2 linked regions of the Homo sapiens genome follow. The protein of the gene in region 2 interacts with the protein of the main gene of each other region in a pairwise test. Each region holds a gene or a part of one and is shown on either strand. Other genes may lie near its edges.

What was found. The genes of interacting proteins can lie anywhere in the genome.
Region 1: the proteins of ZFC3H1 (region 2) and FMR1 interact in a two-hybrid assay, tested with the Homo sapiens proteins (one large-scale study listed by IntAct).

What each region holds. Positions count from the first base shown.
Region 1 is NC_000023.11:147,938,743-147,943,610, reverse strand, and holds part of FMR1 (fragile X messenger ribonucleoprotein 1), read right to left. Parts: intron 3,036-4,868; coding exon 2,949-3,035; intron 481-2,948; coding exon 285-480; intron 1-284.
Region 2 is NC_000012.12:71,652,839-71,657,706, forward strand, and holds part of ZFC3H1 (zinc finger C3H1 domain-containing protein), read right to left. Parts: intron 4,464-4,868; coding exon 4,047-4,463; intron 1-4,046. UniProt on the Homo sapiens protein: Subunit of the trimeric poly(A) tail exosome targeting (PAXT) complex, a complex that directs a subset of long and polyadenylated poly(A) RNAs for exosomal degradation. The RNA exosome is fundamental for the degradation of RNA in eukaryotic nuclei.

The sequences.
Region 1 (4,868 bases), on a different chromosome or scaffold from region 2:
ACAGTTATAAAATCAGGAGAGGCCTTAAGAAAATCATCAACACACAAGGGCTTTGCAGATTTACCCCCAATCAGAGCATGAACAGAACTTGCACCGGCCCTGTGAACTCTACGTGTTTATCATCAGGTTTTTACTCTATGTCTCCTGTAACACAATTTAACCCACTGTGAATTGGAAACCATGTAGCGGCAAATTGTTATAATGGGGTTCTAATGAATATTAGAGATTAGCAGCTATAAGTCTAGGAACAGATAAAGTTACTGAGTAAAATGCTTAGTTTGTACCTGAAGTATATCCAGGACCGCGTCTGCCGTGCCCCCTATTTCTGTAAGGTCTACTACCTCGACCCATTCCTTGACCATCATCAGTCACATAGCTTTTTTCCTTATCTGTACGATTTGGTGGTGGTCTAGAACTAGCTCCAATCTGTCGCAACTGCTCATCAATTTGTAATCTCTCCAAACGCAACTGGTCTACTTCCTATTTAAAATATACAAGATAACAGTAAAAATAATTTGACATTTTACTTAATAAAACCTTTCTCCTTTTCATCAGATAAAAATATACTGGAATATTTCAATTTCAGTTCTAAATTTACAGTAAACACTGTTACACAGAATTATCAGGAAATTGAATGATCTCCTTAAAAAGAAAATTACTACAGATAACAGATTATTGATGTCAAGAATTAGAGATATAACAAAAACACTCAGCAGTAAAATTATACTGAATAAAATTTAAAGTTGTCTAATTTGGCACTATTATCCAATTATTCTACTGCTAAGGCACAGATATGCTATTTTGGGGACTTCTTCATGATAGGATATTAAATAAAACATGCTAAAATGTATGAATATAGATAAATGACATTCAAGGTATAACCAGCTAACCTTAAAAATCACACATTGTAAATAATCTTGATTAAAATAGATTTGCCAGTTAATATCTTAATTTACAAAGCATTGAGTTTGGGCCATCTTTTGTTTTAAAAGAACATATACTATGGTTAAGGAACAATGATTTTTTCATCAACTGAAAATGCTGACTATTCCTCATGAGGGGAAAACAAAACTATTTAATAGCTGACCAGACAGCTAGGTCTTACATCATGCCTTGAAAACTTCCTAAAGACTACAACTCTGCTACAACAAGTACGAGAAACAGTATACATTTAGTTGATAGAAATATACACCTGGGGTCCAATGACAGACCCTTACAAAAAGCACTTCCAGTATGTTGGGTTCTGTTAAAACCAGATGAAACCTCATTTCTAACCACTGTCCTTCCAATCCACTCATAAACATCTCATTTACTGGCTACGGGGAATCAGATTCATAACTATAGTAGTAGTAGGCGTCTCAGTGAAGCAGAGGTTATCATAGAGACTGTCTACATGAACAGTCATTGGAGAAGCTCCTGTAAAGCTAAGTTTCTAAAATCTTGGTTGTGGCAGCTTCTGGAAAAGAAAGGTCAGGTAAGGATTTGGTCCGTTTCATCTGTGCTCTGCCATCATTAGCAATTTACATAGTTACACCAGAATCTGTTTTACATAGAATTTGAGCAAAGGAGAGACTGCAGCTGAGTGAGTGACTTCCTCCAAAGGTATAGTAATAGCTCATGGAATAGGAATATCTTGCAAAACAGAAGAGTAGTCCAGGTTATCCCACTGGGGCAAAGCAGTCACCTTTTGGTGAGAGATGCCAGGCCCAAACGAGGGAAGTTCTGGTGATGGAAAGAATGGCAACAGGGCAGCTGCTGATAACCAAAGAAGATATTCTTGAGAATAAATCAAAGGATCTAAGAAAGAACATTAGTCAAAAGAACAAGGGATTTGATACAATGCAATCCTAACTCTCCAGGCCTTCATGATGATTTAAGCTAATTACGAGAGAGACACACACACAGAGAGATTACACATAAACATACTTAAAAAAAAATCAAAGAGGTATCCTACCCATGTAAACCTTGCTGGATGAAACCTTTCCACTTTTAATTAACTGGCCACCATAAGAATGAATGGCATGCCCAGTATTACACTTTTTCTTCCTTTCATTCTTATTTACACACAAGCAGAAATCATGTACTTTTTATTTCTTTCAAGAAATCAGCAAAAAAATTCTTAATGCCATAAATAGAGTTGAAATGCTTTTTAAAAACATTTAATACCAGCTACATTATAATTTTGATATGTATGGATACAAATAAAACATTATGAAAATGAAGTAGATCAGTTTCCATTTCATTAAAGTATAGAACATTTTGGCCAAAAGGAATTTCAAGAAGCATCTAGTGTAGGGAAGTGACTTGCCTAAAGTCACACAGCTAGTTCATTTGCTGAAGTCTTATAAGTAAATTGCTGCATTGCCCATCCAGTGCTTGCTCCACTACACCTTGTAGCCTCCTCGTTCCTATCTTCCAGTTTGAAATTTTAAGGAGGCATAACCGCATCACACTAACTAAACTGAACATTTATGAGAAGACACAAATAGTTTGTATTTTGAATAACAGTAAAGAGAAAAATAGGGTAAACATTTAAACAAAGAACTTCATGAAATGCTTAGATTTCCTTGATAAATGACATAAAAGGAACAATAAAGGCAAGAGTTATAGACACAGATTTTTGTCTGGAAAAAACCAAAATGCTAGAAAGGATCAAATGGATTAACAGGCTATGTACAGGATTGCCTAAACTGAGTGTAAGGGTTTAAGAGAAGAATAAAGGGAAGTATAAAATTTTATTGAAAACTGGTATATTGGTACTTAAATTTATAAAGACTTCCATTTTTAAAAAAATTATAAGCCAAACAACGTATTTTCTCTATTACCTTTGACAAGTCATACAGTGTTTTGCACAGGCTAGAATGAGTCCTAACTGCTGAAAGATCTACTATAAAGTTTGTATATTTTAGTACAAAAGGATTAGAAGTTAAAGTTCTTTCTGTTCTCACCTTTAAATAGTTCAGGTGATAATCCAAAAGAACAGTGGCATTAGCGATGCTGTCCTTTGTTCCCACAAAAACAAATGGTACCATACCCTGAAAAAGAAATTGCAACAATGATCCTATAAAAGTAATGATAGATTAATCTGAAAAATGCAAATAACGACTAATTCCCTAGCACAGGATCTGGTGAACAGCAGGTATACAAATGTTTGCTGTAAATATAAATCAATATATGAAAACAAAAGTAGTTGATATACTACTTTACACATCTACTGTGAATACGAATAGATCAATAGCAACCTTTTAAACGTATCAGATTATTATAAAGACTAGTATTCAGTATCAGCAAAATCACAAAATGTATAATTCAAAATTATACAAGCTTTACCATGAGATGTATAAACAAAATGAGTAGTATAAGATGCTCTAATTCATTTATGAAAGGCTTTATCCTGATCAAAATTTTTTCTTTTTTTTTTTTCTTTTTTGTTTTTTTTTTTTTTTTTTTGAGACGGAGTCTCGCTCTGTCGCCCAGGCTGGAGTGCAGTGGCGGGATCTCGGCTCACTGCAAGCTCCACCTCCCGGGTTCACGCCATTCTCCTGCCTCAGCCTCCCAAGTAGCTGGGACTACAGGCACCCGCCACTACGCCCGGCTAATGTTTTGTTTTTTTAGTAGAGACAGGGTTTCACTGTTTTAGCTGGGATGGTCTCGATCTCCTGACCTCGTGATCCGCCCGCCTCCGCCTCTTTTTTTTTTTTTTTTTTTGAGACAGGGTCTTTTTATTCTGTTATCCAGGCTGGAGTGCAGTGGCATGATAATGGCTCGCTGTAGCCTCGACCTCCCCAGGCCCTAGGTGTTCCTCCCACCTCAGCCTCCTGGATAGCTGGGACAACACGTGCATGCCATCATACCCAGCTAAATTTTTGTACTTTCTGTAGAGACGGGGTTTCGCCACATTGCCCAGGCTGGTCTCGAATTCCTGGGCTCAGGCGATCTGCCTGCCTTGGCCTCCCAAAGTGTCGGGACTACAGGCATGAGCCATCGCGCCTGGCCGATCAAATTCTTAAAAAAAAAATCAAAATGAAATACCAAGGGTACAAAAGTAAAAAGTAAATCATTTCTGCTAACCAAGTAAATAGAGTACACACAAAATACAAACAAAAACATCAGGATAAAAATGCACTGAATAATCTGTGAGACAAAAAAATAGGTACATTGACAAGCATTAAGTTTTATCAAGCCCATACACATTTCAATAATGTACTCTGAAAATTTTAAAAGGCTGAATCACAAGGAAAGTTTGAACTTCTCTCTATGGACACTACTTAACATAAGAACAGATTTTTAAAAGGCATATGCTAAATGTCTGTACTCCTAGCCCATATATATATATATTAAGAGGGAAAAAAAAAACAACTACTTCTTGTCACAAGTTATAGGGAAACCTAGAAACAATTGTGCAAATTAATAACTGGCAATTCATTTCTGCATGTTGGGTTTTTCTCCAACAAGCTTTATTTGTTACAAAAGCCTTTAACTGTATTATTTCCCAAAATACCATGTGATGGAATGAATGCTACACCCTTCCCTCTGGGTCAAATATCACCAAAATAGCTTTAAAATCCTATGTAACAGATTTAGTTAGATTGACTTCGGAGCAAATTATTTACGAATATCTTTTCTTGCAACATGTCTAAACTGCTGGAGTACCCCAAGGGCCACTCTAATTTAAGCACTTCACGAGTAGACCTGAATAGTAAATTAAAATGAAGAAAGGCAAGAATGGAATGATGGCCTTTAGTACGGACCCCAGAAAAAAGTTACTCTGTGTTCTGGAATAATGGGCTGCCCGGCAATGAGACATATCCAATCCACTTGCCGTTATAGTCCTCTTTGTAAAATGGCACCTTTGCTTTTAATCCATG
Region 2 (4,868 bases):
ATATGGACAGCCAGTGAGGGTTGAACTGATTCCAAGGCTGAAGTCTTTAGCAAATTCTCTCTGGGGAATGCATCTTTGTCCCAGGTCTCAAAAACTTCCCACCACTAAAATTCAAAAAAAAACAACGACCATCTCATATTACAACAAAACAAAATCACTAAATGTTCAAGAAAAGAAAGTACCAAAAATGAGTAATAACAAAACAAACATCAGAAATCAAACCCCCAAAGACCTGAGATACTGAAAATTAGCAGGGATAGGAGATAAAACAAAACAGACCTATGGTTAATTTGTTTAAAGAAACAAAGATAAAGCTGAAAATATAAGCAGGGAGAAGAAAAGTGGAAAGAATGATCAAAGTGATTTGAAAACAAAACAAAAATGAAATAGTAAAACAAAAACTGTAATTGAAATGTAAAACTCAGTAAGTGGGCTTAAGGCAAATCGAATACAGCAGAAGAGAGAATCAGTAAAACGAAAGATGTATCAGAGGAAATTTTCCAGAATTTGTCAATTACAAAGTGACAGAAACTTAGAGAAATGAAGAGACATGAAAGATAAAGTATGATGACTTAACATAACATACATCTATACAGAGTTCCAAAAAAGAGAGAGAATGGGATAATATTCTAAGAGATAATGATCATTTTTTCAGAACCACTGCAAGATCCAATCCAGATTCAAGAAACAACAAATTCCAAGCTGGATACATAAAAAGAAATCTACAATCAGCACATCACACAGTTCAACTACAGAATATCAAAGACAAAAAGGATCTTTAAAACAACCAAAGAAAAAAGATTATCTTCAAATTGGAAACCATTAAGACTGATAGATGAGTTTTGAAAATCAACAATGGAAGCCAGAAAATATTGTCAGTAAGAATATAATTAGGGGCTGGGTGTGGTGGCTCATGCCTGTAATCCCAGCACTTTGGGAGGCCAAGGCAGGCGGATCACTTCAGGCCAGGAGTTTGAGACCAGACTGGCCAACATGGCGAAACCCCAGCTCCACTAAATACAAAAATTAGCCGGGCGCAATGGCATGTACCATAGTCCCAGCTACTCAGGAAGCTGAGGCATGAGAATCACTTGAACCCAGGAGGCGGAGGTTGCAATGAGCCAAGATAGTGCCACTGCACTCCAGCCTGGATGACAGGGAAAGACTTTGTCTCAAAAACAAACAAACAAAAAGCATATAATTAAACAACCTAGAATTCTAAACCCAGGGAAAATATCTTTTAAAAAGAGTAAACGGAAATCGTTTTCCACCCAGCAAAAACACATTTTTAAAAAAAAAGTCTAAAGAATGTATTTAAGCACAGAGCATGGTGGCTCACACCTGTAATCCCAGCATTTTAGGAGGCTAAGGCAAGAGGATCATTTGAGCCCAGGAGTTTGAGACCAGCCTAGACAACATACTGAGACCCCGTCTCTACAGAAATTTTTAAAACATAGCCGGGCATGGTAGTACATGCCTGTGGTCCCAGCAACTCAGAAGGCTGAGGTGGGAGGATCACCTGAGCCCAGGAGGTCAAGGCTGCACTGAGTCATGATCATACTCCTGCACTCTAGCCTGGGCAACACAGTGAGATCTTATCTAAAACACACACACACAGAGAATATATTTATACATATATAATTCCAGACATGATACAAAGAGTGAGCCAAGAAAGTGCTAAATATATAGGCAAAGCTAAGCAAATATCATTCTTTGTATTTCGGGGAAAGAGTAAGGTTCCTGATTAACTTTAAACACTGGTAGGAATATAAGACCAGAAATTTAGTATCCAACTTCCAAACTAGCAAATGAAAAAAAATTGTGTGAAGAAAAATAAGAGCCTAAAAAGAAAAAAAAGAAGAAGAAATAAAACCAAATGTCAATAATCATAAAAAATGTGAGTAGACTATACGTTCAAGCTAAAGGACAAAGATTGTCATACTGAATTATAAATTAAAACCAGCTCTATACTATGTACAAGTAATATCCGAGACATGAGGATACAGAAAGACTGAAAGAGTGGGAAATTATATAAAGAGAAAGATGATGTGGCTATTAATATAAGACAAAATAGTCTTTTAGGCAAAAACATCAGAGATAAAGTCACTACATAATGACTCAATTACCCACCTTCAAAGTATTTAAAGCAAAAAGTAAAAATCACAAATCCATCATCATACTGGCAAATTTTAACAAACTCCTCTTAGTAACTGATCAAGCATATCAAAAAATAAAAAAAGTGAACAACACAAAAAGCTCAAGTAATCTATAAATTCATTTCAAACATACACAGAACTCTTACAAAAAACTGATTACATACTGGACAATAAAGGAAGTCTCCAAGTATTTCAAAAGATTGGTTATCATAGCAATCTTATTTTCTGACAGTATGATTGACTTAGATATCAATAAAAAATACTGCTAGACAACCTACATGTTTAGAAGAAACATACTTCCAAGCAGCCTACAAGTCAATGAAAAATAAAAATTAGAAAATATTCAGAATGAATGAAAAAAGTTAAATAACCCAACTTGAGACAGAACTAAAGTCAAACTTTATGGCCTAAAATGATCTTAATAGGAGAGAGGCTGAAAACTGAGTTTAAAAACTTATGTACTTATTTCAGGGTAAATTAAAGAAGAGAGCAGGGAAAAAAAAGGTACAACTTATAAATACTACAGATAAAAAAGTAAAGGATTCTTAAGAACAATTTTTATAACTTCTGTAACTTACAGGAAATAGACACATTACAAAAAATATAGAGTTTACATAAACTGTCTTAACAGAAATAGAAAACACGAAGTTAGATTAAAACTTTCTCAGAAAAAAACTCCACCCAGGCCCAGACACTTTTATCAGCAAGATCTACCAAGTATCTCAGAATGTTTCCAATCTTAAACTATTACAGAGAATAAAGATGAAAACAGCCCCAACTAATTTGAGTATTATAACCTTACACTAAAAACTGTCAAGGAAAAAGAGGGGGGGGAAATTACAGGCTCTGAACACATAAAAAATTCTAAACAAAACACTAGCAAACCTTCATTTGTAATAGCCGAAAGTTGGAAAAACCCAAACATAATTGGGAAATGGATGAACTACAGTATGATGGGATACACAGAACTACTGACATATACAATTACATGAATGAATTTCAAACACATTATGCTCAATGAAAGAAGCTATAATGAAAGGCAATATACTGTATGATTCCATTAGTGTGACATTCTGGAAAAGGCAAAACTATAGGGACAGATCAGTGGTTACCAGGTGAACTAAGGGCTGAGGGACGGGATAACTACAAAGACACTTGGAGAAACTGTTTGAGGTTGATGAAAGAATTCTGTATCTTAATGGTAGCTGGTGATGGTTACCCACTGTCTACATTTGTCAAAACCTGAAGAACTACACACTTATTCATTTATAATGTTAAAAGATAAATTTTACTGTATATAAATTATATCTTAATAAAGAGGAAAAGAAAAAACAAGCCAAATCCATGATTTAAAAATGGTATATCATAAACTGTATTAAACGCAAGCATACAAGGGTGGTTTAATACTAGAAATAAATTATATAATTCATTACACTAACAAATTAAAATAAATTAGATGCTCATCCCAATAATGAAGAAAACAGATTTTGTAAACTTCAACATCCATTCACGCTGAAAATTTCAAACCAGGAATAGGAGTAAAACCCTCCTTTACCCGATAAGGGATACCTACAAAAAAATTAACATCATATTTAATGGTAAATGTCAAAACCATTTTCTTTAAATTAGGAAACAAAGGTGTCCACTATTATCACTTATGTATAACATTCTATTATAGAGGCCAGAATGTCAGGCAAAAAATAAATAAATAAATAAAGACTAAAAGTAAACAAAATTAGTAATTATTCAATGATATGAATGTCTACATAGAAAGTACAAAAGAATTTACAGATAATTACAATCATTTCAATGAAGTACACTGCCAAAACAAGTAGTTACTACTTTAGAGGAAGAAGAGTCATTACTAACTGAAATATTTAATTCCATTACCTTGACTAGAATCAGTAGTGTCGGATTTCAGGGAAAGTGGTTTTGCTCCATCTTTAACTTTTTTCAAACGGTTCTTATCTCCTGGTAAAGTCAATTTTTGCCTGAGTGGTTTTAATTCAAATGCCTGAAAAGTTTTGACTTGTGTTTTCTCCTCAGGAGCTACTTCTTTACTTGAATCCTTTGTAATACTGACATTATCAGTGCTAGTTTGGTCCTCGAAGTTCAATGTTTTAGGATCTTCCTGCACATTCTCTTCTTTGCTACTCAATGCTAGTTTTTCATCCTTATTGATGCATTCTAGTTCCAACTGTATTTGTTTATACTTTAAAAGCAAATCTTCAAAAGTTTCTTCCACACAGTTTTCATTTTTTGATGAATAATTTTGTTTTCTTGATGGAGACCTTCCAAAACTTTTGGCTGAACAGCATATTAAGGAAACCAGTTTCCAAAAATTTTCCACAGTTAAATTTAACAAAAAAACTTAGATTATAGATGAATTTTCTCCCTTTTTAATTTTTCAAGAAAAATGAATCGATATTTTTAAATTACTAAATTCCATTTAATGTATGTGCAGCTAATGCCCACTTTCATTACGTGCCCATATTTGAATTTAGTAAGTACCATATAAACAGTCCACTTACAAAATCACTAGTGTCATAATTACCAGTAGTATCCACAGACAGTCCACCTAGTTAGGTTATAGCATCATTCCTTCTGTGCCAGGAAAGTCCATAATTAGCTGTATGTTAGAGATTATTTTCTGAAGGAAGAGGGGAGAAACTGAATGCTTTGTCACAGATGCGGATAGTTTACACTTCAGGG